Homo sapiens: one gene and its partners. The protein of the gene in region 1 purifies or fractionates together with the protein of each later gene. This does not show direct contact. Each region holds a gene or a part of one and is shown in the gene's direction. Other genes may lie near its edges.

Evidence for each region.
Region 2: the proteins of DCAF8L2 (region 1) and KCNN4 purify together in Homo sapiens (affinity purification with mass spectrometry; one large-scale study listed by BioGRID and IntAct). This does not show direct contact.
Region 3: the proteins of DCAF8L2 (region 1) and MTPAP purify together in Homo sapiens (affinity purification with mass spectrometry; one large-scale study listed by BioGRID and IntAct). This does not show direct contact.
Region 4: the proteins of DCAF8L2 (region 1) and TRPC4AP purify together in Homo sapiens (affinity purification with mass spectrometry; one large-scale study listed by BioGRID and IntAct). This does not show direct contact.
Region 5: the proteins of DCAF8L2 (region 1) and NOP14 purify together in Homo sapiens (affinity purification with mass spectrometry, with the first as the bait; one large-scale study listed by BioGRID). This does not show direct contact.

What each region holds. Positions count from the first base shown.
Region 1 is NC_000023.11:27,589,195-27,593,143, forward strand, and holds the start of DCAF8L2 (DDB1- and CUL4-associated factor 8-like protein 2), read left to right. Parts: upstream 1-1,149; 5' UTR 1,150-1,246; intron 1,247-3,949.
Region 2 is NC_000019.10:43,763,846-43,769,188, reverse strand, and holds the end of KCNN4 (intermediate conductance calcium-activated potassium channel protein 4), read left to right. Parts: intron 1-156; coding exon 157-226; intron 227-1,481; coding exon 1,482-1,646; 3' UTR 1,647-1,649; intron 1,650-2,099; 3' UTR 2,100-2,656; downstream 2,657-5,343. UniProt on the Homo sapiens protein: Intermediate conductance calcium-activated potassium channel that mediates the voltage-independent transmembrane transfer of potassium across the cell membrane through a constitutive interaction with calmodulin which binds the intracellular calcium allowing its opening.
Region 3 is NC_000010.11:30,313,087-30,319,458, reverse strand, and holds part of MTPAP (poly(A) RNA polymerase, mitochondrial precursor), read left to right. Parts: intron 1-3,248; coding exon 3,249-3,341; intron 3,342-3,422; coding exon 3,423-3,496; intron 3,497-5,487; coding exon 5,488-5,850; 3' UTR 5,851-6,372. UniProt on the Homo sapiens protein: Polymerase that creates the 3' poly(A) tail of mitochondrial transcripts. Can use all four nucleotides, but has higher activity with ATP and UTP (in vitro). Plays a role in replication-dependent histone mRNA degradation.
Region 4 is NC_000020.11:35,001,904-35,008,679, reverse strand, and holds the end of TRPC4AP (short transient receptor potential channel 4-associated protein), read left to right. Parts: coding exon 1-16; intron 17-812; coding exon of another isoform or gene 813-852; exon of another isoform or gene 853-1,032; intron 1,033-1,039; coding exon 1,040-1,130; intron 1,131-2,104; coding exon 2,105-2,245; intron 2,246-2,876; coding exon 2,877-2,985; intron 2,986-4,109; coding exon 4,110-4,222; intron 4,223-4,315; coding exon of another isoform or gene 4,316-4,540; exon of another isoform or gene 4,541-4,589; coding exon of another isoform or gene 4,590-4,640; exon of another isoform or gene 4,641-4,807; intron 4,808-5,063; coding exon 5,064-5,270; intron 5,271-5,396; coding exon 5,397-5,534; 3' UTR 5,535-6,276; downstream 6,277-6,776. Other genes in the region: MYH7B (myosin-7B), read right to left, coding at 6,492-6,521, 6,595-6,732. UniProt on the Homo sapiens protein: Substrate-recognition component of a DCX (DDB1-CUL4-X-box) E3 ubiquitin-protein ligase complex required for cell cycle control.
Region 5 is NC_000004.12:2,952,906-2,959,277, reverse strand, and holds part of NOP14 (nucleolar protein 14), read left to right. Parts: intron 1-1,537; coding exon 1,538-1,672; intron 1,673-2,466; coding exon 2,467-2,608; intron 2,609-4,714; coding exon 4,715-4,854; intron 4,855-5,632; coding exon 5,633-5,767; intron 5,768-6,372. UniProt on the Homo sapiens protein: Involved in nucleolar processing of pre-18S ribosomal RNA. Has a role in the nuclear export of 40S pre-ribosomal subunit to the cytoplasm.

The sequences.
Region 1 (3,949 bases):
CTTCCCATTTATCAGCTGGAGAACTTACAATGTTATAGAGTGGTCATGGGCTTAAGAAAATGTTTACAGAGAGGTTATATATTGTATTAGAAAGCTGTTTATCAGGCCATGAATGTGCTATCCACAGAGAAACTATGTTTTGTGGATATGGGAAGGAAAGGAGTAAATAAGGCAAATGCATTGCAAGAAAGAATTTGGAGAATAAATGTAGCAAGCACTTACCATGTAGGCCCAGCCTTGGATATGGTGAAATGAATATTATTTTGAATTAATTAAATTTATTTGCTACATACCATATTTAATCAGCTTCATAGCTTCATACCATCTTATATATTTTTCTGGAAATTTTATATCCTGTGGGGAAACATGAAAGATCAATTTACCAAACAGAAAGAAATTATCAAGTCACTATGTCTAGAAACATTTTATTTGAATTTTATCTTCCCATGATTTGCACATAAAAAAGGAAGGAAGAAGATTGATTTTGCAAGTTTTCCAAAAAACTAAACTTGGCTCTAAGTAATGTTGGATTTGACAGAAATGAAAGTATTTTAATCAAAATGTCATATATTAAAAGAATAAACCATGTGTGTAAATTCAAAACTTTGATTCTTACTCCTTTCCCCCTTTCAATTAAATTGAACCTGTAGAGCACATAAAGGACAAACTAAGCAAAGTTGCTCCTGAACTGATGATATTACCATATCTACCATTAGTAATATTTCTTTAACATTTATATTCTGCCTCTTCACTTTCCAGACTGAATCACTGTAAAAATAGGTGTGAACTGCATGGACATGAGCAGTGCTTTTCTTGAAAGCAATGATTAGTTAAAGAAATCCAGAAATCAATATCTTTCTCAAAAGCAACTGGTAGAAGACAAATCCCAAACAATTACTGGAATCCAAGAAGAAAATGAATTAATTTAGGTTTTTTTTCTACAAGTACTAGAAACTGTAAGGTCCTATTATCAAAATTAGATTAGGATGGAACTAGAGAGCCACAACTTTAGCCACAAACTTTCAAAATATCCTGCCTCTGGACCATGGAGCGCTTGATAAAATGGTGCATTTGGATACTTTACTTGCTTACAGCGTGGGAAAGACTCACGTAAACTGCAATAAGAACCATGAGAGATAGTTTTGTTCTGTGGAGTCGCAAAAGCTGAACATCCTCCCCACAAGGTTATTTAGAAGACGTCTTGCACTGTTCAAATGCAGAGGAAGGCGAATGACTCGAGTCTATGGTATGTAATCAATATTTTGATTTCAACAATGATTTTGGGAGTGGGGTTAATTTTTAATTGCAGAGATCTTTCTAGTATGAAGACAACTGGATTCATCCCTCTGTGATTGAAAGTTACCTTAAATAATACTGAGCGGAAATAGTCTTGTTTCTTAATTTTACAGAAAATTTTACAGTTGCCTGGGGCACAATATGAGAAATCTTACTTGTTTTTCTCTTTTTAAACACAATGCTGCACTTCTAGTAAAGTATATTCTCACCAGAACTTTCTAATACATTGATATGAAAATATTCCTACACTATCTCAAATATTAAGACGGAATAGAGATAATTCATCTTATAATGTTAGACCTACATAGCACCATAATAAATTCATATTTTTAAAATTGAAATGGGGTCTTGCTTTGTTGCCCAGGCTAGTCTCGAACTCCTGGCCTCAAGCTATCCTCCCACCTCAGCCTTCCAAAGAGCTGGGATTACAGGTATGAGCCACCACACTTTGCCAGCACCATAACACATTTATGTTAAATGTTTATAAAAGCCTTTACATTTTATATATATATATATATATATATAAATAAATAATTTGATAGGTTACATTACATTTTATAAAATACTTTATCATATAAGCATACCAGTAGGACTATATTTGGTATATCATAAATGCTGGGGGTTTTTCTTCATCCTGAATTTGAAAATACATGTACTGGTGTGTGATTCAACTTATTTAATTCAAATAGGAAAAGAAAAGTTTTTCAAAAAATGTTTGCTAGGCTTAGCTATTTGCCAATAACATTTGGGTGGGGTAATTTGTGTGTGTGTTAGTATCCAGCAGGCTACAGAAAGTTTAGCATAGCAGCTACCCAATCCCATAAATGCAATAACACTTTCCAGATACTATGATAACCAAAACCTCCCACATTTTCAATTCCCTGATCATCCTCTTTTACCCCATTGAGGAGACTGGCTTAGAACAGTGGTTTACAGAATTATGATGCTCTCTACATTTATAAAAATAAGGCAGTAAGTTGTTGCTTCTCCCCCTTCCCTCTACCTCTCTCTCCCTCTTCCCTTCTCTCTCCCCACTCTCCTTTTCATCTTGTTAGAAACTGCTATTGAAAGCGTAGTAATAAACAAACATCTTTCTTTCATGGTATCTTATAGGTAGCAAAGTTCTTTTATATGTATTATTTTATTTTATCATTATAATATCTATATCTGGAAAGCAGAGCATACATTATATTTCTCTGCATACAGGTAAAAAACAATAAACGAAGGCTCAGGGAAGTTAAGAAACTGTATCATACCGTAGTGATGCTGGAAAGTGTCTTGTTCTTGTTTAGATTAGTCTTTTTAACTATGTCTGACTGAAATGTTAACATGTTCCCTGTCTTTAAGAAGACAATAGTTTAAGTGGGAAGAAAATTTCAATCAACATAGCTTAAATCCTAACTTTCAGTATGCAGACACACTAATATTAACTACAGGAAAATGCTCCCAAATGTACAGCACAGCCTGGTTGTCGTCCATCCTGCCATCGCTGCTTTTGTCCCATTTGAAGTGAACGCAGTGCTGCCCTCCTGGCAGGTCCTGGCACAGCAGCTTCACCACCCACCGGGTCCCCTCACACCAGTGGCTGCTGACCACCGTGGTGAGAGAGAAGGCGAGGGCGATGCAGATGGGTAGGAGGAGTAGCGCCTGCTGCTGCCTGGCCCCGTCCAGGGCTGAGTGAGGTGCGTGGGGCAGGATGAGCTGTGGGGCCCCCTCCTCCTGCCTCGTCATAGTACCTGGGCCTCAGCTCTGCCATCTGGCATCCTCACACAGCCTCCTTTCACGTCCCCCTGGGGAACTGCATGTGCTGCCGCACCACATCCAGAGGCATGGAGCCGGGGCACGTTCCTGTCAAGGGTGCTGGCCCTGCCATTCTCCCCAGGAGGTAGGTGTGCAGGAGAGCATTGTTTTTTTTTGTTTGTTTTTGTTTTTTTTTTTTTTGGTTTATTTATTTATTTATTTTGAGACAGAGTTTCGCTCTTGTTGCCCAGGCTGGAGTGCAATGGCATGATCTTGGCTCACCGCAACCTCCGCCTCCTGGGTTCAAGCGATTCCCCTGCCTCAGCCTCCTGAGTAGCTGGGACTACAGGGGCATGTCACCATGACAGGATAATTTTTTTGTATTTTAGTAGAGATGGAGTTTCAACCTTGTTGGCCAGTATGGTCTCGATCTCCTGACCTCGTGATCTGCCCGCCTCAGCCTCCCAAAGTGCTGGGATTACAGGTGTGAGCCACCACCGCATCTGGCCAGTGGGCATTGTTTTTTAATTGTGGTAAAACACACACATAACATGAAATTAACCATCTCAACCTTTTTTTTTTTTTTGAGACAGAGTTTCACTCTGTTGCCCAGGCTGGGGTGCAGTGGCACAGTCTTGGCTCACTGCAACCTCCACTTCCCAGGTTCAAGCGATTCTCCCACCTCAGCCTCTCAAGTAGCTGGGATTACAGGTGCCCGCCACCACACCCAGCTAATTTTTGTATTTTTAGTAGAGACGGGGTTTCACCATATTGGCCAGGCTGGTCTCAAACTCCTGACCTCAGGTGATCCACCTGCCTCGGCCTCCCAGAGTGCTGGAATGACAGGCATGAGCCACCGTGCCCAGCCATCTCAACCATTTTTAAGCGCATAGTTCAGTGGCATTAACTACGC
Region 2 (5,343 bases), on another chromosome or scaffold:
GGCAGGGTGCATCCCCTCCCACTCTTTCAGCTCTTCGACAACTTTGTTTCTTTGTTTTGTTTCTTCATGTGCCTCTCCTCCCTTCATTCCTCCCCTGAGCTACAGCTACATTCAGGGACCAGGCTTGTAAAACTGACTCCCCACTTCTTCCCACAGGTTCCGCCAGGTGCGGCTGAAACACCGGAAGCTCCGGGAACAAGTGAACTCCATGGTGGACATCTCCAAGGTACTAGGATCCCGTGGGAGGAGGTCTTGAAGAAGGGGGAGGTTGGGGCCACAGGGAGGGAAATCTGGCCCTAGAACAGGGAACCTTGGCAGGGGCCTGGCACACACAGCCTGTCAGTAAAGGTCTGTGGTTGAATGAAGGAAGGAAGGAATGAATGATGCAACACAGAGCTTCTTACATTCATGAAAGGCACAGATCCCTTACAAACTGAAAAAAAAAAAATTGCACAAAGAACCCCAGTGTTTGGTTTCAAATTATCTTTATTGTTAAGTTACTTACATGTGGACGGATATAAAATTCCTTCCAACTACAGCTCATACAATAAAACCAAAGCAAATTTACAAACCAAGCCCATAGACGGCAAAACCAATACAATTAAAATGAACAACACTGACAAGGACACAGGTGACATTGTTTCCGTAAAACTCAATCTCTGCTGCTCTTGTGGAGGGGTACTCAGGGCAACAGGGACGTCCATGCAAGTTTGCCTGGCCAAGGCGTGACTCAGCTACCCGCCCCCTTCTTCTGCTGAGACCATTTGATTTCGCCAGTGCTTAGGGACAATGATGTCACAACACCCCCTTGGCCTGGCTCACAGCATCTTCTGCTTATCTGGTGGCCTTTGCTTTTTCTCGTTAGCCCACGACAGTTCAAACAGTGGCCCCTGGCAGCAATGCCATGGTAAGCACGGTCACAGATGCAGGCCCCAAAACCGCATGGCAGGTCTCAGTGACGAGGCAGTGGCCCAGATCTGCAGGAATTGGCAGGTGGTAATTTCTGAAGGTTATCAAGCCAAAAACACAGAATTCAAGAATTTCCATAGAAAATCCACAAACCCTCAGGGATCAACTAGTGAATCCTAGCCAGAGAATGCAGTAAAAGACTATGTGGATTTGGAAGTCAGGCATCATCCATGCTAGAAATATCTAATGAGCACCTGCTATGTTCTAGGTCTTATTTCAGGAGCTGCTTTGGGCATGTCATTTAACTGTTCCATGCCTGTTTCCTCAGCTGTAAGACAGGAACAGGATTCCCACTCCCTGTGGCTTTTGGGAGGATTTTAAACCATATAGGGAAACACCTGGGCAGGTAGCTGGGAAGTGGTAGGTGGTCAATACATGGTAACAGTTATTGTCGAGGGTAATCCTCAGAGGACCATAAGGATGTGGTCAATATTGGTTCCATTGCCTTACGCTATGGAGTAGGTGGGGGTCGACCCCAGCCCCGACACCTCTGATCCTCTCCTCCCACCCAGATGCACATGATCCTGTATGACCTGCAGCAGAATCTGAGCAGCTCACACCGGGCCCTGGAGAAACAGATTGACACGCTGGCGGGGAAGCTGGATGCCCTGACTGAGCTGCTTAGCACTGCCCTGGGGCCGAGGCAGCTTCCAGAACCCAGCCAGCAGTCCAAGTAGCTGGTGAGGGGGCTGGGACTTGGGCAGGAAGGCATCCTGGAGGAAGGGTTCCTGTGGCCAGCACCCTATGTGGCTAAGGGGGCGGGGGATGGCTGGGAGACAAGGCCGCCTTTTCTCATCAGCTCTGGCACTGTCTGGAGGAAAGGACTCAGTTCGGGGCTGGACTGGCAGTGAAGGAAGATGGTGTACCCTCTCCCCTTCACTGACCCTTGATGGCCTTCTCCCTCTTTGCTTGGTCTCTCTCTCTCTCTCTGCCTGTCCTGGGCACATTGTCTGGCTGTCCATCCAATGTCTCTGTCTAAATGCCCTCCTGCCCCCTGGCCTCGGGGCCCGGAAACACCTGCCCCCTGTCTCCCACTTCTGCCCACCGGTTTCTGTCTGCACCTCGGTGTGTCCCACTCTCACTCTCCCTCTTCCTGGCCTGCCTCTCCATCAGTCTCTCTGTCTCTCCAGGACCCACGAGGAGGAACCAGGCTACTTTCCCCAGTACTGAGGTGGTGGACATCGTCTCTGCCACTCCTGACCCAGCCCTGAACAAAGCACCTCAAGTGCAAGGACCAAAGGGGGCCCTGGCTTGGAGTGGGTTGGCTTGCTGATGGCTGCTGGAGGGGACGCTGGCTAAAGTGGGTAGGCCTTGGCCCACCTGAGGCCCCAGGTGGGAACATGGTCACCCCCACTCTGCATACCCTCATCAAAAACACTCTCACTATGCTGCTATGGACGACCTCCAGCTCTCAGTTACAAGTGCAGGCGACTGGAGGCAGGACTCCTGGGTCCCTGGGAAAGAGGGTACTAGGGGCCCGGATCCAGGATTCTGGGAGGCTTCAGTTACCGCTGGCCGAGCTGAAGAACTGGGTATGAGGCTGGGGCGGGGCTGGAGGTGGCGCCCCCTGGTGGGACAACAAAGAGGACACCATTTTTCCAGAGCTGCAGAGAGCACCTGGTGGGGAGGAAGAAGTGTAACTCACCAGCCTCTGCTCTTATCTTTGTAATAAATGTTAAAGCCAGAAGTTGCCATTTCTCTCTAAACATATCTACACTCCTAACTGGCAGACCGTCCAGTGGAAGACTGTTGCCTTGTCTGAACCTGTCTCAGAGGCCTTCTCCTGTAAGTGCCCTCCCAACTCTGTAGGCTGGGCAGTCCTCAGCAACAGTCCCCTGCCCAGATCTGAGGCAAAGAGCAACAGCTTTGAACTCAGACAGATCAGGGTCCAAATCCTGGTTCTACCATCCACTGGTGGTGTGATCTTGGGTAAGTGGCTTCACCTCTGAACAGTTTACCTCACCTGTGAAATGGGACTGCCTCCCCATGGAACTGCTGTGAAGATTAAAACATGGAGTAGCCCAGAGGCATTTAGTAGGAACCAAATATGTGAGAGAGAATCTTTTTTTTTTTTTTTTGAGATGGAGTCTTGCTCTGTCACCCAGGCTGGAGTACAGTGGCGCGATTTCGGCTCACTGCAACCTCCGCCTCCAGAGTTCAAGCGATTCTCCTGCCTTAGTCCCCAAGTAGCTGGGATTACAGGCACCTGCCACCACGCCTGGCTAATTTTTGTATTTTTAGTAGAGATGGGGTTTCACTATGTTGCAGATGCTGGTCTTGAACTCCTGGGCTCAAGCAATCTGCCCGCCTCAGCCTCCCAAAGTGCTGGGATTACAAGCGTGAGCCACTGTCCCTGGCCAAGAATCATTTTTATTATTGTTTTTGATTTTCACACACAATGCGTGGCTGCCCTTTTTCTGATTTTTTGTTGCTTTTCTCCCTCTATTCATGCCTTACCAGAATCTAGATGACAACTCACTCATCAAGAGACTAACAGAGGCCCCAAACCTCCCCAAACCACCCACATACCCGTTTCACATCCGCTCAAGAGAGGATGTGAAAGGGAAGGGGGCAAAGGAGGGGGGCTGGCACTTCCAGAGGCCCTACTGTGTGCCCAGCTCTGTTTATAAGTCACCATAACCACTCTCCTGACCCTCGTTACCCCACTGCACAGATGTAGAAACCGAGGTTTCAAGAGGAGCCAGGCCTCCCCTCAGGCCCCCAGCCGGAAGCTAGGAATACGGGCTGGAGAGCCCAGATTCACACCCATCCCGCCCCACTGCAAGGTGAGTCAGAGGCAGAGTGGCCTTGGGCCACAAACCGAGGACTGACTTCCCGCCGCAACTTCATTCCAGCTTGAGAGGCTGATTCATTCTTGCTTCCCTCCTCTTGAGGGGAAGATCAGGCTGCGAGTCATCCTTTTCTGTTGAGCTATCTTTGGATTTCCCTTAAAGTCCACAGCCAGCCTCGCCCCTTCATCCCTGAGAGCTAAATTGGAGCCTCCGCCACCCACTGCCACGAACTGCCCTTCCTCTGGAGGCCAGCCCACCTGGGGAGTAAAGGCGGGGACTCAAGAAAGGAACTGGATGAGACCTCCAGATATTGCTGACACCCTTCCCCTGCAAGAAGCTCTCCTGGCAGTGTTGCCAAAGCCCCTGCCAAACTCATTCTTCTGGGACCTCTCTTTCCTTGCCTCCACTCCCTTTTAGCTGGCAAACACTCCTTCCTACGCCTCCTGTAGGCCTCGGCTAATATGTCCCCTCCTCCAGGAGGCCCTGTCTGATACTCCTATAGCCTCATAAACCTATCCCTATCACGATAATAATATTGGGTCTGGCCAGGCATGGTGGCTCACGCCTGTAATTCCAGCACTTTGGGAGGCCGAGGCAGGCAGATCACCTGAGGCCAGGAGTTCGAGACCAGCCTGGCCAAAATGGTGAAACCCTGTCTATACTGAAAATACAAAAATTAGCCAGGCGTGGTGGTGTGTGCCTGTAATCCCAGCTACTCGGGAGTCTGAGGCAGGAGATCACTTGAACCCAGGAGGCGGAGTTTGCCGTGAGCCGAGATCGTGCCACTGCACTCCAGCCTGGGTGACAGAGCAAGACTCCATCTCAAACAACAACAACAACGACAACGACAACAAATTAGCCAGGTGTGGGGGCACACACCTGTGGTCCCAGCTACTTGGGAGGGTAAGGTGGGAGGAACACTTGAAGAGGCTGGGAAGTCGAGGCTGCAGTGAGCTGTGGTCGTGCCACTGCACTCCAGCCTGGGTGACAAAGTGAGACCCTGTCTCAAGTAGTAGTAGTAGTAGTAATAATAATAATAATAATAATAATAATAATAATAATAATAATAATAATAATGGGTCAAGCACCACGCTAAGCCCTTTTAATAAGTGACCTCACAAAAGGAGGCAAGGTAGGCAATGTTGGTCCCATTTTACAGATGAGGTAACTGCCCGAAGCCATAGCAAAGCAGTTTGGAGCCAGGATGTGACCCAGGCAGCCTGACCCCAGAGCCCCAGCACTTAGCCACCTGGCGCATTCAGACACTCAGGAGACCATCACATTGTATTTTCATTTTTGTTCATGATTGCGTCTTCAACACCAAGGGCCTGACATAGACAGGGCCTCAGTGAATGTCATTAAACGAACCCTCTGAATGCCTGGGATGGCCTGAAGCCACCCCATGTTGGTTTCAGCTGAGCCATCCCATGTTGATTTCAGCTGAGGCAAGGTCAGAACCAGTGAAAAGGGGCTTTTGACTAAGAACCTAGGAGAACATACAAGAGATCCTGTGTTCTGAATTATCTTGGATCTGCCCTGGCCCGCCTGCCCTCATTCTCCACTGTGGGGCTCAAGCCTGGAT
Region 3 (6,372 bases), on another chromosome or scaffold:
TGTGTACAATCATTTCATTTCTTCTAAGCTGTACCTCTCATTTGATATACAAATAATCAATTTGTTCTTTTTTAAAAGAAAAAATATTTTATTTGCTTCCTTGCTTGTTTATTAATAGAAGGCAACATGAATTCCTAGAATACCTTCCAGAACTTCTAGGATTTTGTAAACTACTATTTAGAACCTAAGCTAAGCTAAAGACCAAACTTTTTCACATTGTATGCAGGGCCCTTTATCACCTTCCTTTTTATCCTCTTCTTTTACGTTGATTCCTGTATACCAGTTGGGAGCTTTAGCCACTCTTGAACTCCTTGATGATCCCTGATGTTTTGTGCTTTTTTTCATTGCTCCATGCTTTTGCCTGAAATGGCCTTCTCCCAGCCTCCCCCTCCCAGCCACCCCGCTTTTTTTTATGGAGAATCTCAAGATTAAGCCAGAGAAGACAGACAAACCTAGTACAGGATCTCATCTGTTAGGTCTTTTCTTGCTGTCCTCTCTGCTTCCCAGTGGGTAGTGCTTTGTTGGTTTCCAAGCTCTTGGTACACACCTGTATTGTAACAACTGTTAGATTGTTGTAGTTCTTTTATGTGCCTGCCTCAGCATTGTCAAGCTTTTCTAGGGCTAGCTGTCTGCTTCACCTCTGCGTCTTCTGTTCTCGGAATAGTATTGGGTTCATAGTAGGAGTTCACTATGTAGATTTCAAAATGATTGGATAACATTTTAAAGTTGAGGGCTGTTTGTACTGGGCAAGATGGACCATGATATTAACTTTCATATTTGGTTCCTCTTGAATTGCCCTGTTTATTTGTGTTTTCTTATAATCTCCACTGTGTTCTCTCATATGTCTCATTTTCTTGTGTTTTCCATGCTTTCTGGCTTTGCTACTTTTGTTACATTTACTTCTGTGCTTAGTGCTTTAATTGAAGATTCATTCCTGAAAAAAGACACAGCAGCTAAAAGAGCATCAATATATGTGACTGACACTGCATCACAAAAAAACATACACTGTTAATTACTTGAAATAGTAAAACATGTGCTCAGGTTCCTTAAAAATAGATCTAAGTAGAAATATATATACATACATACATTTTATATAGCTCCTTCAACATATTATAAATTGTATAGTAGAGCACGTAAAATGTGCTATTAAAATGTTAAAACCTAGAATAATTTTTGAGAAATTATGCAGGTAACCAGGTCTTGACAAAAAAATGACAAAAAACACAAAAAATGGGAGATAAATTTATAGGAGGCTTATTTATCTCTCTGGTGATTATAGGCATTTAAAGTCAAATATCAGGGCCGGGCACGGTGGCTCACGCCTGTAATCCTAGCATTTTGGGAGGCCGAGGCGAGTGGATCACTTAAGGTCAGGAGTTTGAGACCAGCCTGGCCAATATAGTGAAACCCTGTCTCTAACTAAAAATATAAAAATTAGCCGGGTGTGGTGGTGTTCGCCTGTAGTTCCGGCTACTCAGGAGGCTGGGGCAGGAGAATCACTTGAAGCCGGGACGCGGAAGTTGCAGTGAGCCAAGGTCACGCCGCCACTGCACTTCAGCCTGGGTGACAGAGCCAGATTCCATCTCAAAAAAAAAATTAAAATATCAGCAGTCATCCAGATTATTGATTATATACCTGCTATATGCTAGATGCTCATTGGGGGCAGGTCGGTGGTGGGGAGTTGGGCAATAATGAATAGGACAGTGGCCTTTGTAATTCCTGACTGGGGCAGAGGAGTGGACAGCATACAAACAGTCACAATGCAGTCAGATAAGTCAAATGGTGAATGGAACAAAAAGGATGGAAAACCAGTTTGGAATTATGAAATGCTTTCAGATAGGAAGTAGCCATTGATGAGATTTCTGAAGAGTGGGAATTTGCTCTTGAAAACAGCATAGTATCTGTTGCAGATAGTGTGGGCCAGGGATTTCATGGTGGTTGTATATTTATGAAAATGATTACCTCTTAAGATATAAATACTAGTAGGAAAGGTGAATATCTGAGTCTAACGTGCTGTTATTGAGTTTGTTTTGCTGAATTACTGAATTCCAGTTAGTCTAGAGTGCTACATTTTAGAAATTACCTGAAGCTTTTTTAGTTAGCATTCAGTTTGTGTCGTGTATGAAGATGATAAGAATGGAATTGGAGATGTAAATTAAGTATTGACTAGAGGTAGTGCTGAAATTTGGTTTGGTGAAAGATGGGGGAACTCCCTACATTTCCATCTACTGTTAGAAAACTGATTACCTCAAAAATTGATTAGGAATCATTGGGTTGTTGAAAGACAATAATTCTAGTATGCTAAATTAAATGTAATGTTAATTTCACTGTGGCATAACTAGTCTCAAATCTTTTTTTAAAATATAACTCCATTAAAAGAAGATAAAAAGATTTGAGATTAGTTATGCCATAGTGAAATTAACATCATTAAATCATAGACAAGAAATTATAGATTAAATCGTTATTTAATCATTCAGTCATAATTATTCAATCATTTATAAAATCTGTGATTTAAATAAAGAATAGAGTAGAAATTTACTTAAATTTGTTTTGTTTTGTTTTGTTTTGTTTTTTGAGATGGAGTCTTGCTCTCTTGCCCAGGCAACAGTGATGTGATCTCAGCTCATTGCAACCTCCGCCTCCTGGGTTCAAGCGATTCTCGTGCCTCAGCCTCTTCAGTAGCTAGGATTACAGGAGCAAGCCACCATGCCTGGCTAATTTTTGTATTTTTAGTAGAGATGGGGTTTCACCATATTGGCCAGGCTGGTCTCGAACTCCTGACCTCAGGTGATCTACCCGCCTCAGCCTTCCAAAGTTCTGGGATTACAGGTGTGAGCCACCGCGCCTGGCCTTAAATTTATTTAAATCATAGATTTGTATTCTGAGGTAGGGAATATCTTTGAAATATGTGAAATAGGCTGGGTGCGGTGGCTCACGCCTGTAATCCCCTCACTTTGGGAGGATGAGGTGGGTGGATCACCTGAGGTCAGGAGTTCGAGACCAGCCTGGCCAACATGGTAAAACCCCATCCCTATTAAAAATACAAAAATGAGCTGAGCGTGGGGGCATGTGCCTATAATCCCAGCTACCCGGGAGGCTGAGGCAGGAGAATTGCTGGAACCTGGGAGGTGGAGGCTGCATTGAGCTGAGATCATGCCGCTACACTCCAGCCTGGATGACAGAGTGAGACTCCATCTCAGGCAAAGAAAAAAAAAAAACACGTGAAATATTTTTTGTTTGTGTTTAAGATGCAGAAGATAAATGTGTAATAGAAGGCAACAACTGCACATTTGTTCGTGACTTGAGTAGAATTAAACCTTCACAGAACACAGAAACATTAGGTAAGTGTCTTTCTGTTTACTTGATCCTTTCTGGATTGAAACAGGCTTTCCTCTGATTGTCCTTGTTTTATTTTCTTACAGAATTACTACTGAAGGAATTTTTTGAGTATTTTGGCAATTTTGCTTTCGATAAAAATTCCATAAATATTCGACAGGTAAATAATGTTTTACTATTTAGTTATTAGTATCTGGTCTTCCACTGTACTAATATTTAATTAACTGTTTTCAAAACACTCTAATAAATGTTATTTATTTCTTTTGTGTAGTAATTTGTAGTAACAAGGAGGTTGATGTCCAGAGAAGTTACATGACTTGACTAAGATCAGTCATCCCTTTATGCCAAATAGTAAAAGCCAGCTCTTTAGCATCTGCCTTGTTATTATGCCATGGGACTTCTGTCCTCACTTAGTGTAATACTGTATCCCTCATGATGTGGAATACATTCCAGAAAGTTTCCTGAAAACTATTATTTACATACAGCTGTTTTTAAACTGGATTTGTGTCTATGGAATAAACTTAAGTCCCAAAGATAGATTTCAGTGATTCCCTCAATTTGAGCCCTTAGGATTTAGGTGTTTTTTTGTTTTGTTTTGTTTTGTTTTGTTTTTTTTTTTTGAGCAAATGAACTTACGATTTGGATTTCTGAGCAGCTGGGATGAAAGACATTTTTTCTTTTCAAAAAGAAACTCAGGCAGAAGTCTAGACAAAATTTGTTTGCAAGTGGGAGATAACTTGGGATAGCCCTCTGTTTGGGTTTATTCTGTTTAGCATTTGGCTACTTGATTACAAACCTTACAAGATTGGCTTCATAAAACACAAACCCAGATATACTTTCTCCTTATTTCTTCACCTCTCCGTTTTTCATCCTTCCCTCTTACCTGCTCATGGACTCTTTGTTAAAATAAAAGATTGGGGAGAGGAGAGAGAAAGGATTCATTCGGAAAGCTTTGCAAATGCTATCTAGAAGGAAAAAGTCATAAGCATACAAAGTTCGTCACCTTTTTTGTACTCCAAAGCTCAGAGATGCCAAGCATGAAATAAGTTAGGGAATATAACAGCTGCTGCTCACATCAGGGAATTTTGACCATTGGCTTTGTAATAGTTAATTAAGTAAATTTATGGTATCATTTGAAAGAGGAAAAGATATATAGACTAATGGCTTATGTTAGTCATATGATTCATAGCTTTAGCTTTTCTTTTTCTTTTCTCTTCTTTTTTTTTTTTTTTTTTTTTGTTTTTGTTTTTTGAGACAGAGTCTCACTGTATTGCCCAGGCTGGAGTGCAGTGGCATGATCTTGGCTCACTGCAGCCTCCGCCTCCTGGGTTCAAGTGATTCTCCTGCCTCAGCCTCCTAAGTAGCTGGGATTACAGGCATGCGCCACAACACCTGGCTAGTTTTGTATTTTTAGTAGAGATGGGATTTCACCATGTTGGTCAGGCCTGTCTTGAACTCCTGACCTCAGGTGTTCCACCTGCCTCGGCCTCCCAAAATGCTTGGATTACAGTTATCTTTTTTATTTCTGTGAGATACTATCTTATGTGGCAGAGCCCTTTTGTTGGATCTATAGGAAGATAATGGAAACTTTTTAGTGTTTTAAATAAATAATGAATAATCCTTTGTTCCTCCTCTTTTTCCTCATCTCATACTTGGGAAACATTAATTAATATATTTAATTTAAGGGTTCTAATTTTGTGTGTTCCTGTTTCTACCATAATAGGTATGCTTTTAGCAAGTCTCAGAAATAAACGTATCTTCATCTTACTTTCTGATTTTTTAATCATTTTTTTCCCTTTCATGCTCTACCTTGTTAGGTAAAAGTTATATTATTTTAAAAATACTTTTGTCGGTTGAGTTAGTCCAGATACCTCTTCTCTGAGCAATGACATCATCATCCATAGATGATAAGCCCTAAGTTATTTCTCCAAAGAACACTCATAAAACTTACAACAGGGAAAAAAAAAACAAAAAATGAGAAGTACACACACCCACCATGCATACATACTCAATCCCCTGAGAAAGAAATTCTTTGCTATGTAAAGTTAATGCTGGTGTTTTATGTGTTTTGACATTTTATTGAGTTAACTGTTTTTATATTTAAGCCCTTCATGTACTTACTCATTTTTTCTTCTGTGTAATAATCTATAGGGAAGGGAGCAAAACAAACCTGATTCTTCTCCTCTGTACATTCAGAATCCATTTGAAACTTCTCTCAACATAAGCAAAAATGTAAGTCAAAGCCAGCTGCAAAAATTTGTAGATTTGGCCCGAGAAAGTGCCTGGATTTTACAACAGGAAGATACAGATCGACCTTCCATATCAAGTAATCGGCCCTGGGGGCTGGTATCCCTATTGCTACCATCTGCTCCAAACAGAAAGTCCTTTACCAAGAAGAAAAGCAATAAGTTTGCAATTGAAACAGTCAAAAACTTGCTAGAATCTTTAAAAGGTAACAGAACAGAAAATTTCACAAAAACCAGTGGGAAGAGAACAATTAGTACTCAGACATGATGGCTGCTACATTGTGTAAAGAACTGGGCTTAGCCTATCAAATGGTCTGTGGACTTACTTGGAAAAACTGATTTGAAACTTTCACAGATCTCAGCTTTCATCTGATGTCACTTTTCATGATCTTCTCATTGGCCCCCTTAACCTGGTCTGAAGTTCTGGGATGTTTTCAGTTTGATCAGTCTGATACTCAGTGGCACTTTATTAAAACATCAGCTGTGGAGTGTGGCGGTGCACACCTGTAGTCCCAGCTGCTCAGGAGGCTGAGGCAGGAGGATCTCTTGAGCCCAGGATTTTGAATCCATCGTGGACAACATAGCAAGATTCCATCTCTAAAAAAAATGAAAATAAACATAAGCCACAAGGAATGGGTGAAAGATTATTGTAATGTGCTTTAACTAAATAGGTAAATATACTAAACAAATGCTAAAACTCAGTTTTAGGATGAAACCATTGTTGATATCCACATCAGTCCCTGTTTAGAAAACATTTAAAATGACTTTTAGTTATGTACAGTACGTTGGC
Region 4 (6,776 bases), on another chromosome or scaffold:
CAGAGTCGTCTTTCAGGTGAGTCTGGGGAAAAGTACCTGCCGATTCTGCGGGGCTGCAGAGCCAGGTGTTTCTCAGGAGGTTAGGAATACCTCCTTTAGTCACCAGCGTCCATGCCTCCTGAAGCACAATTACTGTTGGGGAGAGGTGGTTTGACTGCCATCTTGTGTAGTTTTGACTCGACAGGTATGTGAGAGCTTCTTCTGCAGCCCACAGTGACCGAGCATTCACCAAGCACCTGTTCTGTGCTGGTGCCTTATGGGTGGGAGAGAACTAGGATACGGGCCCTGCCATGAATTCCCTAGAGCTGTGCTGTTTCAATGCAGTGTGGGAAGGAATGGAGCCAGGGTTGGCCCAGGAGCTATAGCAGCAAAGGAAAGCCTCTTCCGCTGCTAGGGCTGGGGGCTGGGTGAATACAGGGAGACCTTCTCTGAGGTCCTTAGATACATCTAAGATGAGTCTTGAAGTCAGTGGACAGGTAGAGTTCCATCAGGGCCGGGCGTGAGCTGTCAGGAGGCTTCATGCCCACATGGGCCTTTGTCACTTCAGTGCCTTGTCCAAACTCCCTGTCGTGGATACCCGCTGTGCCCTCTGGGTCCCTCGGTCAGCATCAACCACTACTTCCCTAGGCCAGCCCATCGTCTGTGAGCCCAGTGGCCTGTCTGCATGTGTTCGTCCGCTTCCCACACACATTCCTGGCCCCTCAATTGCACGTCCTCCCATTCTTGTGAAAGGGCAAGGCCTAGAGTATGTTTCACGGGGGCTCGCAGGAGCCAGCCCTTCGATCCCAGATGTTACCCTTTCTGTGACACAGCCCCTTCCAGACAGACCCAGATAGAAGACTTCTCCACTGAGCTGGCTCTCTGTGAGGATGGGGGCACTGCTGTGTCCCCAGGCCCAGGATGAAGCCTGATGCTTGGTAGATGTTCAGTAAATGTTGAGTACATGAAAAGGCAACAAACATCTCCCAACCCCTTGGAGAACTGAACATGGGCCGGAAGAGGGCAGCCTTAGCCACCTGAGCCAGTATTTGGGTCGCAGGTTTTGGCAAGCTCGGGCTGTGGAGAGTTTCCTCCGAGGGACCACCTCCTATGCAGACCAGATGTTCCTGCTGAAGCGAGGCCTCTTGGAGGTATGATCTGGAGCAGCCAGTGTCTTGGGTTCCGTCTCCCCCCAGCCCACGCGTTGCTGTGTCCTGTCCTGAGCCCCAAACAGTTCATCAGGAGCAGAGCAGATCTCGTGACTTCCAAATGCCTGTGCAGGCTGCCTTAGATTTTGCCCTGGGTTTCCAACTGTGGGTTCCCCATGGGTGCTTACGGGGTGACAGGTTTAGAGGGTGGCCAGGCCATGCAGGAGGGTGACAGTTTGGTTACCCAGCAAGGCATTTTGACCCTGAAGATATTTTGTACTAAAAGTTAATTTTCCTTTATTGAATAATGGTCTTCAGAAAAAGTAAAACTTAGAGCAGAATGGCCAAAGTTATAATTGGTCTTTCAGATTTTTTCATATGGACAAGAAACTGACCCACGAATTATAAAATCCATGTGGAAAAGAATTGATCCAAATCAATGTAACTTCAAGAAAATGTAGAAAACTTTATAAAGGAGTAAATTGGCTTTATTCTCTTGATGAAAACTCAGTATTTTGGTGTAAACTCTATTTAAACAATTTCGTTCATAAACACAAAGACAAACCATGGGGTCAAAATGTGTCCTTTGCTTTTAAATTCTGTCCTTCATTTACTTGAATGACCTCAGTGCTTAGGCAGTGGCCTGTGTTTTAGACCTGGTGATGACAGCTCCCCTCACCTAGGAGCTGAGCACCCCGGCCATCTTGGTGACCACAGAGCAGGTCACAGGCTTCAGCTGTACGCCCTGGGCAGGGGAGAGATTGTGCTGCATTCCCAGTCTGCTCCACCTCCTGGTGAGGTCTGTCAGGCCTGGTCCTGTCCTTGGAGCCACCAGCATCCTCAGACAAGAATCTAGACAGTGTTGCCAGTTCCATCCCCAGGATGCTTGCTCAAAGCCAATGCATGGTCTGAGCTCCATGCCAGGCCCTGGTGGGGGCAGCCACGTTGACACCTTCACCCTGTCCCTCCTCACCCAGCACATCCTTTACTGCATTGTGGACAGCGAGTGTAAGTCAAGGGATGTGCTCCAGAGTTACTTTGACCTCCTGGGGGAGCTGATGAAGTTCAACGTTGATGCATTCAAGAGATTCAATAAATATATCAACACCGATGCAAAGGTAAAGTTAACCCAGGGCTCTGTGGAGTGTGCTGGGTTGTCCAGAAGTTCACCTGGAGTCCTGGTCTGCCAGGCTTTAGGCACAGGTTTTACGTTAGAGACGACGGGGGAGTCTGGGCAGTCTTTGGCAAACATTCATTGGAACCTGCTCTGTCTGGCTTTGTGCTAGACCCTGGGAATGCAGGGATGAAAACCGGGGCTGCTTGTGGGTAGGGAGTGAGGGTGGGAATGGGTGGCTTGTGCGCCTGCCGTGACGCAGCATGGTGGGTGCCACGGTGGGAGCCGCTGTAGGGAGGGACTGGGCCTGGTGTGTTAGGCTCACCGAGTGTGTGTGACAGAAACCCAGCTCAGGCTAGCTGAAGTAAAATTAAAAGTAAAAATTAAAGGAATCCAGCACCCTTGAGCGTAAAACCACTGGAGAGAGTGTCGGATCTGTGCTGAATTCCGGGGAGTGCCTCTTAGTACCTGGGTGGTGAGGGGAGGTCCCTCAGCTTATCTGAGCCTCTGTCTTCCTATCTGAAGCAGTGGGGCTGGTAGAGGTCGCTGATGCCCCTTGTAGTGACTATCCCCCCGGGCCATGGCCATACCTGGCCAGCAGCCCACTGCCTGCTGTGAGCTTGGTTTCTGTATAGTTCCAGGTATTCCTGAAGCAGATCAACAGCTCCCTGGTGGACTCCAACATGCTGGTGCGCTGTGTCACTCTGTCCCTGGACCGATTTGAAAACCAGGTGGATATGAAAGGTACATGAAAGGCAGGCTGTCAAGGCAAGTCATGCAGGGTAAGAATGCTGGCATCAGACACCCTGTCTCCAGCAGGGAGACAAGAATGACTGAGGGAGCTGCACCAGATGCCCACGTGGCCGGCCTCAAGGTGGCGGCTTCCAGGGCAATTGGCTTTGCTGCCTTGTTCAACACTTTAATAAGGTGAAAATCCATTGTTGCTAGCAAGATGCAAAGAAAACCAGAAAAAGACCTTCCTCTTCTGGGCTGGTATTGCCTGGCACGATGAGTTGGCCCCCTCGTCCTCAGTGTGCTGTGCGTGGCATCGCAGGTGCCCTGTGGTGCAGCAGGCATCTGAACCCTCCTGGACTTGCTAACGCACTTCCATGTGTATGCGCACGCGTTTCCTTTTTTTCCTAGGAGAGGGCTTGTGGCATCCAGCAGATTCTCCTGAGGGTTTGTGACCCCCCCACACCCCCAAAAAGTCAGGCACTTGTTCCTTGTCACGGTCACTGTCATTGATAGCAAGAAGTATCCCGGTTGTTGGTAATTTAGCCGTTTGCTTCCTTTTTCTGCCCCAGAGGGTCTGTTTCAGGGGAACAGCCACACAGATTTTGGTACCTTCGGTTATTGCCCTGCCTCCCAGTTGTGCGGGAAGCAGTTGCTCCGACACTAGTGGACGGAGCAGAACCTGTGCCTTGTGGTCTCAGCACTGGGCCGGACTCACCTGAGAGCTGGTGTGGAAAACCAGTTGCGCTAGGACCTCTGCAGAAGGAGTGGAACTTTTGCGTTGTTTTTCTTAATGCAGCGTCATGGATCCATCTTCCTGTGGAGGGAACTCTTCTGTGTGTGATATGGAGGGCACGGGTCTGGAGCCAGTCTGGGGAGGGCTGAGGGAGAGCTGCCCTGAGCTTGGTTCTGGAGGATGAGGTGGGGTGCTCCTGGGCACTCTGAGAACATGGCTTTGCCTGGTAGCAGGACAGCTGGAGGTCCTTCTTTCTGCCACAGTCAGCTTTCGTTGAAGCTGTTTTGATGATGAGCTCCTAGCTTCAGAGTCAGGACCCAAGCGGGGCTCCACGAAAGGCCTGGGCGACCCAGCCACTGGGCCTAAGCCTGACCTGCTGCACCCCTGCCTCCCTCCACAGTTGCCGAGGTACTGTCTGAATGCCGCCTGCTCGCCTACATATCCCAGGTGCCCACGCAGATGTCCTTCCTCTTCCGCCTCATCAACATCATCCACGTGCAGACGCTGACCCAGGTGAGAGGCCCCGGCAGACACACAGCAGGGAAGGTCGATTGGAAACCACTTCCTTTGTCCTGGTGCCCAGCAGGTTTCTGTCCCCCACTCCAGAAGTGCGTCTCTGGAGACCCAGCTCTTCTGAGGACTGTGCTCAGGAGGAATCAGTGTCCCATTGTACAGACAGGGCCTAAGGAAGGAGGGCTCGCAAGTGCCCTCAGGTCACAGGCTGACTTGCAGGCCAGTGCTCTCCCCGCCTCCCCCATGTCCACGTCCCTCACACCTTCTGCCCTGCTGGGCTTTGGAATCGGACCTGAGGCTGCCCAACTCCCTCACTGAATAGTCATGCAGCCTTCCCTTCTCTGAGCCTCCTGCCCCTCTTTTCTAGAGTGAGGGTGATCTTAGCACCTCTCAGAGGTGGTCTTTGGTTCCGTTCTGAGGTGAAGCACCAGGTGGGAGTGCATGGTGAGTGGGGCAGAACTCTTTCCCCACCGAGGCGCGCAGGCTAGTGCTGAATGGCACTTCTGAAGCGGGATAACCGCCCCAACACACGCACCCAGCCCTGCCTGGGACGGACCTTCCGGAAGGAGTGATGCTTGAGCCCAGGTCTGGACAGGGACAGGTGTTGTTGCCTCAGGTGGGGTGGGAGGTGGGCGTGGGGAAGAGGAAGGTGCTCAGTCAGGAAACTGGGGCTGCTGGGGGCCCCCTTCCCCCAGTCCTATCTCACCTCTGTGCAGGGAGAGCTCTGTGGGTGGCCCGAGGCCTGGGGCCACTCTCCTCCCTGCCTGATGGCTACCCAGGTTCACCAGGGGCCACTGGGGCTCCCACCAGCCCCTGACCCTGTGGGCCTGTGGCCTTGCAGGAGAACGTCAGCTGCCTCAACACCAGCCTGGTGATCCTGATGCTGGCCCGACGGAAAGAGCGGCTGCCCCTGTACCTGCGGCTGCTGCAGCGGATGGAGCACAGCAAGAAGTACCCCGGCTTCCTGCTCAACAACTTCCACAACCTGCTGCGCTTCTGGCAGCAGCACTACCTGCACAAGGACAAGGACAGCACCTGCCTAGAGAACGTGAGTGCCCCACCCTCAAGGGGGTGATGGGTGGGCCGCGGACCCAGGGCCTCTCAGAGGGGTGTCCCGGTGCTGGGCTTGACCTGGGTCCTCCAGGCGCCCCCCAGCCCCTCCCTCTTTGCCCAGAGCTCCTGCATCAGCTTCTCATACTGGAAGGAGACAGTGTCCATCCTGTTGAACCCGGACCGGCAGTCACCCTCTGCTCTCGTTAGCTACATTGAGGAGCCCTACATGGACATAGACAGGGACTTCACTGAGGAGTGACCTTGGGCCAGGCCTCGGGAGGCTGCTGGGCCAGTGTGGGTGAGCGTGGGTACGATGCCACACGCCCTGCCCTGTTCCCGTTCCTCCCTGCTGCTCTCTGCCTGCCCCAGGTCTTTGGGTACAGGCTTGGTGGGAGGGAAGTCCTAGAAGCCCTTGGTCCCCCTGGGTCTGAGGGCCCTAGGTCATGGAGAGCCTCAGTCCCCATAATGAGGACAGGGTACCATGCCCACCTTTCCTTCAGAACCCTGGGGCCCAGGGCCACCCAGAGGTAAGAGGACATTTAGCATTAGCTCTGTGTGAGCTCCTGCCGGTTTCTTGGCTGTCAGTCAGTCCCAGAGTGGGGAGGAAGATATGGGTGACCCCCACCCCCCATCTGTGAGCCAAGCCTCCCTTGTCCCTGGCCTTTGGACCCAGGCAAAGGCTTCTGAGCCCTGGGCAGGGGTGGTGGGTACCAGAGAATGCTGCCTTCCCCCAAGCCTGCCCCTCTGCCTCATTTTCCTGTAGCTCCTCTGGTTCTGTTTGCTCATTGGCCGCTGTGTTCATCCAAGGGGGTTCTCCCAGAAGTGAGGGGCCTTTCCCTCCATCCCTTGGGGCACGGGGCAGCTGTGCCTGCCCTGCCTCTGCCTGAGGCAGCCGCTCCTGCCTGAGCCTGGACATGGGGCCCTTCCTTGTGTTGCCAATTTATTAACAGCAAATAAACCAATTAAATGGAGACTATTAAATAACTTTATTTTAAAAATGACTGCTGTGGACCTGGCTTTTGTCCCTAGGACTGTGTTTTTCCTCCTGAACCCCAAAGAAAAGAATGAGAAGGAAACTGGCTGTGGTGTTTATTCAGGGCCCAGGGAAGGCTGAAGGCAGCAGGGGGCGATGCAGAGATGGCAGGATCGGGGCAGGTGGCCTCAGCCAGATGTGCAACAGCAGACATTCCTCTTTAGAGCCCAGGGGGTCAGGCCGTCACTCCTTGTGCTGAGGAGAAAGGGATAGCTGAGTGAGCAGTACTACCTGTCAGCCCCCACAGTCCCCCTGCACAGAGAGCAATGCCCCTGCCACTCCTCACCTTGGGGCCCAGGGCGTCCCGGGTCCGTGCCCGCAGCTTGTTGGCCTGGGTTTCCGCCATGTCTGCCCGCTCCTCCGCATCATCCAGCTCGTGCTGGGCCTTGCGATACTTGGCCAGGTTGGTGTTGGCCTGCTGCTCCTGGGGGCACACACAGGGCCTTGGTTCCGCTTGGGTGACTGAGA
Region 5 (6,372 bases), on another chromosome or scaffold:
TGCCACGGTAGGAAGTTACTAGAAGTTACTAGGGATTAATAACTCAGCGTGTGTCAGTTGAAACAAATTGGTTCTTGAAATATTCTTGAAGAAAATGACGAAAATTGCCTTGGCAGTATTTATTGAACTAATGGATGGTTTCCTACTCTTCAGGTAGCAGAGGGGTTTTTCATGCATTTTAAGTGTAATAATAGCACTTTCACATTTCAAAGTGAGATAAGAGAAATGGTTTTTTCACATCCTTTTCTCCTGTCCACATGATTAATATTTCGGTTGACCTCTCCAGATGGAATGTGCTCTAAATGGAAAGGAGGGCCAGGTCGTGCTTCTGTCCCTGCTGGAGCATCTTCTGCTCTTGCCCAGCTGCTTCTTAACCCCTTCCACTCTCTTTTCCTCCTCTTCCAGCTCCTGGTTTTGACCTTAAATCTGGGTTTCTTAGCCTTTAAGTTCATCTCCGACCCTGGGGAAGTGACCTATGTCTGGAGCAAAATCTGACCTGTCCCCTCCTGAAACAGAACTTGGAACCAGAGTGGCAGTGACCAAGTCACCACACGCTCCCTCCTGCCACACGCACGCATTCTTTCAAAGTGACTTCACAAATTAGAGGAATCCCTGAGGAAGGCAAGGAACACTTAAGTCGGGTTAGATGAGAGGTTTCAAATGTCTGCCGAGGCACCGATTTGTGGTGGGTTTGTAAAACCACTGAATTGGATCATTCCAAGGGCCTTCCATGGCATCAAGATTTTGCCTTGATGCCATTTCCTTTCGGAATTGCTGTGTAAACACCAGTGTAATGGCAGTTCCTTAGCAAATAGAAGAAGTTCCGCAGCAAGAAAGAGTTTGCAATGTGGCCATCTCAGGTTGCAGAGGCCACTCGTTCCTCACCCATCTCTGTCCTCTCACAGCTTTCTTTAGGGAATTCAACCTCCAGGACAGCCAACTTTGAATACTGTTAAACTTGGTCTTTTTTTGTTGCTGCTGGGAAAATAACCAAATTATTTGATACTTGCTAACCGTATTTAAAATATTGCTCCTCTTGGTGTTATAAAGGTGAAGCCCCTAAACTGTGACCTCGCTAACTTGTTTATTGCCTTGTGTCTAGTATGAACTCACAACTACACATTTCTTAGGAGTACCTTTGATGGGAAATAGTACCCTCCTCCATGACGGAAGGAGTCTAAACCCATTTCCACTTTTCCAAATGTGCACGTTTTAAACCTTAAGGCAGCTGTTACAGCCGAGGGAGCCATTCATGCCTTGAGCTTGACTAGTGTGTTCTTTTTTACCCTTCCTTTTGGCACCGGTAGACTCTAAAGAAGAAAAGAAAGTGATTGCCCCATTATCCTTGAAAGTTGTTTTGCTCTTCTCAAAATTCTGTGATTAGTAGAGAAAGCCTATCGTGCATGAAAGCAGATTGGGTGTGAACTTTGACATCACTGTGCATAGCCCTGAACTTTAAAGTATGCACTGTTCTGATGTCCCCTGTAGTGGAAATCACAAGAATTTTTTGTGAGATTGTTTCTGACCTGTTTTCCAGCGTACACAGACTTTACTAAAAGAGTACAAAGAAAGGGATAAATCCAATGTATTCAGAGATAAACGCTTCGGAGAATACAACAGCAACATGAGCCCCGAGGAGAAGATGATGAAGAGGTTTGCTCTGGAACAGCAGGTATGGAAAGAAACTGGAGGAGGGTTTTTGCTGTACATTTCACAGGGAAGTCAAGGCCAAGGAGAAGGCTGACTCTGCATGTTTTGCATGTTCCTGGGCACTCGGAAGGTCCAGGGGATAGCCCTCGAATCCTGTGCCTTATCTGGCTAGGCCAAAGGAGAAGCAACCTCTTCTGCAAATGTTAGCTGAATGGATAAATGCCTTAACTCTACTACACGGCAGCAGTGTGCACAGGAGTTCTCAGCTGAGCAGCATTGCTGGAGTGGAAACTGGCCCCTGGGCTTATTTAAGAATTCCCCTCCATGAGGCCGGGCGCGGTGGCTCATGCCTGTAATCCCAGCACTTTGGGAGGCTGAGGTGGGTGGATCATGAGGTCAGGAGATCGAGACCATCCTGGCCAACGTGATGAAACCCCGTCTCTACTAAAAATACAAAAATTAGCCAGGCGTGGTGGCGCATGCCTATAATCCCAGCTACTCAGGAGGCTGAGGCAGGAGAATCACTTGAACCAGGGAGTCAGAGGTTGCAGTGAGCCCAGATCACTCTACCGCACTCCAGCCTGGGCAACAGAGCGAGACTCTGTCTGAAGGAAAAAAAAGAATTACCCTCCATGAGTTTCATTTCTGTCTGAATCATGAATCATTGCTTAGTTGACCCAAAATACTCTTTAAGGCTGCTTAGGATTCGTTGTCATATTTCAAATATAATGGAAATATATATATCTACCTTATCTTTTTTTTTTTGCTGTGAAATGGAAGTGGTAATTTTAGGAAACTTTTTTTCTCTTCTGTCAGCGACATCATGAGAAAAAAAGCATCTACAATCTAAATGAAGATGAAGAATTGACTCATTATGGCCAGTCTTTGGCAGACATCGAGAAGCATAATGACATTGTGGACAGTGACAGCGATGCTGAGGATCGAGGAACGTTGTCTGGTGAGGCTGGGGTGCTGTGCACGGGCCTGTGGGCGTGGAGTCAGGGAGAGTCTGTTCATTGTTAGACCTTCTGCTCTTCTTAGAGACTAGAGAAAGTTATTGCATGAAAGTTTTACTGATCATTAACCTCTCTACAAATTTCACAAGTGACAGTTTTTATGTATTTTTGTTTTTTTTTTAAGTTTTCAGAACTTTAAGATGGTGTGTAGATAGATGCTTTTATGGGCCAAGAAAGCATGTTGATATCCATTATTTTATTTGAACCTCAAAATAGCTCGTTCTACCCATGAGCTCAGAGAAATAAGGTGTTTTGCCCGATGCCAGAGTCAGAGCTGTGGGGAGAACCCACCTCACTGACTCCAGGTGCCTCACTGAATGCACTACTTTGCTCCCCCTACTTTATCAATTCCAGCCTAATATTTGTACCAGTGGCATTGATGTAGTTCCTTTAGCTTTTACCTACTGTGGAATTATAGCAGTTTGAGGAAAATCATATTGAGCCTCATATCTGTAGATAACAACATGAAACAGATAAATTTTGGCCTTAAATAATGTTAACAGAGTTTAAGATTCAGTTCGGGTCTGACTGTCTTGAACCCTATTTATAAGGTTGCAGTCATGACATCAATTACTTGACATTTCTTGTAAGTTAAAGTAGGTCCCATTTCCAGCATCTTCAGAACAAAGGTGTACAAATCTAAAACTGACTCTCAAAGCTTTGTCTTGTCAGTGTGTGAAAGTTAAGGCGTTAAAGCCTGGGGCTGCCTTCTGATATTTGGCTAATCCAGGGGGTAAAAGGCTTAGGAATTAGGGCAGCAAGCATGTGGTGCAGAACCCGCCATCTGCGGCACACCAGGAGGCCCCGCCACTGCTCGGCTTCACGGGCGTGAAGAGAATGGCCAGTTATTTTAACCCCTCTGTGCCTTTGTCTTTGCTCTTTTCATTGTTCAAGACTTCTCGTGGACCCTTAGCTATAAAACGCATTCCCTGGGGAGATCCTAATTCCCCGAGACTGGAGGTAACTGCCTTGGTGTGAGTTGGGCGAGTGGCCTTCCCCTCATTGCCAGGAGGCGCTGTGGCGCAGGTGACTAGAGGGGGCGCCGTGGCGTGCAGGTGACTAGAGGGGGCGCCGTGGCGTGCAGGTGACTAGAGGGGGCGCTGTGGTGCAGGTGACTAGAGGGGGCGCCGTGGCGTGCAGGTGACTAGAGGGGGCGCTGTGGTGCAGGTGACTAGAGGGCGCCGTGGTGCAGGTGACTAGAGGGGGCGCCGTGGCGTGCAGGTGACTAGAGGGGGCGCCGTGGTCCAGGTGACTAGAGGGGGCGCCGTGGCGTGCAGGTGACTAGAGGGGGCGCCGTGGCGTGCAGGTGACTAGAGGGGGCGCTGTGGTGCAGGTGACTAGAGGGCGCCGTGGTGCAGGTGACTAGAGGGGGCGCTGTGGCGTGCAGGTGACTAGAGGGGGCGCCGTGGTCCAGGTGACTAGAGGGGGCGCCGTGGCGTGCAGGTGACTAGAGGGGGCGCCGTGGGGTGCAGGTGACTAGAGGGGGCGCTGTGGCGCAGGTGACTAGAGGGGGCGCCGTGGCGCAGGTGACTAGAGGGAGCGCCGTGGCGTGCAGGTGACTAGAGGGGGCGCCGTGGCGTGGAGGTGACTAGAGGGGGCGCCGTGGCGTGCAGGTGACTAGAGGGGGCGCCGTGGTACAGGTGACTAGAGTCTCCAGGCCCTGCCCAGGGAGGTGGGAGGGACACAGATTGCACCACTGATCCTGGGCGACGCTCCCACCAAGACCCTGGAGTCAGCTTGCTCTGGGTTTGCCAGTCTTCGCTAGAACCAGCACAATCAAAAATAGGTGCTGGGTGTTTCCAGCCACTTGGGTTACGGCCAGTTGGGAGTGTAATGGGTCTGGGTTTTCTCAGAGTGGCTTACCTTGGGTATTTCTCAAGTGCCATTGTGCCTGTGGTCTCAGGCCAGGCTGTTGCGTGTGAGCATTTTTTTCTCAAATGTGGACTTTTCCAGACCACTATGGGGGAAGCACTGGCAGAGTGCTACAGGAAACACTTCCCACGCCAGGGCTGGGCTTCACTGTGGGGTTTTCTGCCTTTTGCCCCCAGCTGAGCTGACTGCTGCCCACTTTGGAGGAGGCGGTGGGCTCCTTCACAAGAAGACTCAACAGGAAGGCGAGGAGCGGGAGAAACCGAAGTCCCGGAAAGAGCTGATTGAAGAGCTCATTGCCAAGTCAAAACAAGAGAAGGTGGGTTAGTGAGTGTTCTTGATCATCTTCTCCACGGTAAGACAGGCTCACCAAAATGTGTTTGAGCTTTTTTTTCCTGTACCTTTTTAGGCTGTGTTTAATATTTTATATGAGTTCAGTAAAAGCATTTATTGTGAGTAGGAATTTTAAAAATCACATAAAGCATATACCTCGGACAGGTTTTGGTTCTTTTGCCTTTTTTTGGTTTATGTTTTGTTTTATTTTGAGACGTAGTCTCTGTTTCCCGGGCTGGAGTACAGTGGCACGATCAAAGCTCACTGTGGCCTCAAACTCCTGGGCTCAAGGATCCAGTGATCCTCCCACCTCAGCTCCCCAAGTAGCTAGTGGGCGCCACCATGCTCAGCTAATTACTTTTTGTAGAGATGGGGATCGTGCTGTGTCGACCAGGCTCAAGCAGTTCTCCCACCTTGGCCTAGTTCTAAAGCACAGGGTGGGCCACTGCACCTGGCGCGGATGGGTTTTTTGTTGTTGCTGGTTTTAGTATCTGACATGTGCCCAAAAAATCACTTTTTTATTCATTTGCAGTGAACTGCTCAGAGCATCTAAATTAATGGTTTATGGCAGGAAAAGATTTCCGTCTGATGAGATTTGGTAGCTTTGCATTTAAAATACTCATTTCTCCTGGCCTCTTTTCTGTGTTGAAACGTTTGGTGCCAACTGAGTGATCACTGTGTGTGTCCTTGGCACTGACATTGGGCCTCTGGGTTGAAGTCCAGTAGTAACGGTATGTGGTGTGTGTCTGTTATTTTTTCCCCAGAGGGAGAGACAAGCTCAACGAGAAGATGCCCTCGAGCTCACGGAGAAGCTAGACCAAGACTGGAAAGAAATTCAGACTCTCCTGTCCCACAAAACTCCCAAGTCAGAGAACAGAGACAAAAAGGAAAAACCCAAGGTGGGAGCCAAGTACTGAAACAAACTCTTCACTCACTGAGCTTGGGTGACCGACTTTCTCCAGAGAAAGGGCTGGGGCTGGACGGCTCTTCTACCTGTCTCCTTTAGGGCAAGTTTCTGTTGAACATTGATACTGAATTACCTGCTGTGTGTAATCTTGGGGTGGAAGTAGATTCAGTTACTTGAGTCTCTATTGCAGGTGAATTAAACTGAAAAAAGTGGTGTTTCTGGATGGAAGAAGTACTTCAGGGTGGACACGTTAGAATAGGTGTCTGAACTTCCCTGTGACATGTTTGTCTGTTGATACATAATACATACATTTAATATACATTTACTTATTTTTGCCTCTGTAAACAGTTGTTTCCTACTGCATTCTCTTTAGTCGAAACTATTGGAAAATGCTGCATTTGTTTAAGAAACTGCGTTCTCAGAGAAGTCTAGATCCCAGCAGATTAGTGTCATGTGGTCATCTGTGCATCTTTGTCAGTCAGCCTTGATGTTACCGTTACTTTACTTAGTTTCCCACGTTTAGGGCGTAATGCCTGGATAAGTAGCGTTTTTGTTGTTGTTTGAGACGGAGTCTCGCTCTGTCACCCAGGCTGGAGT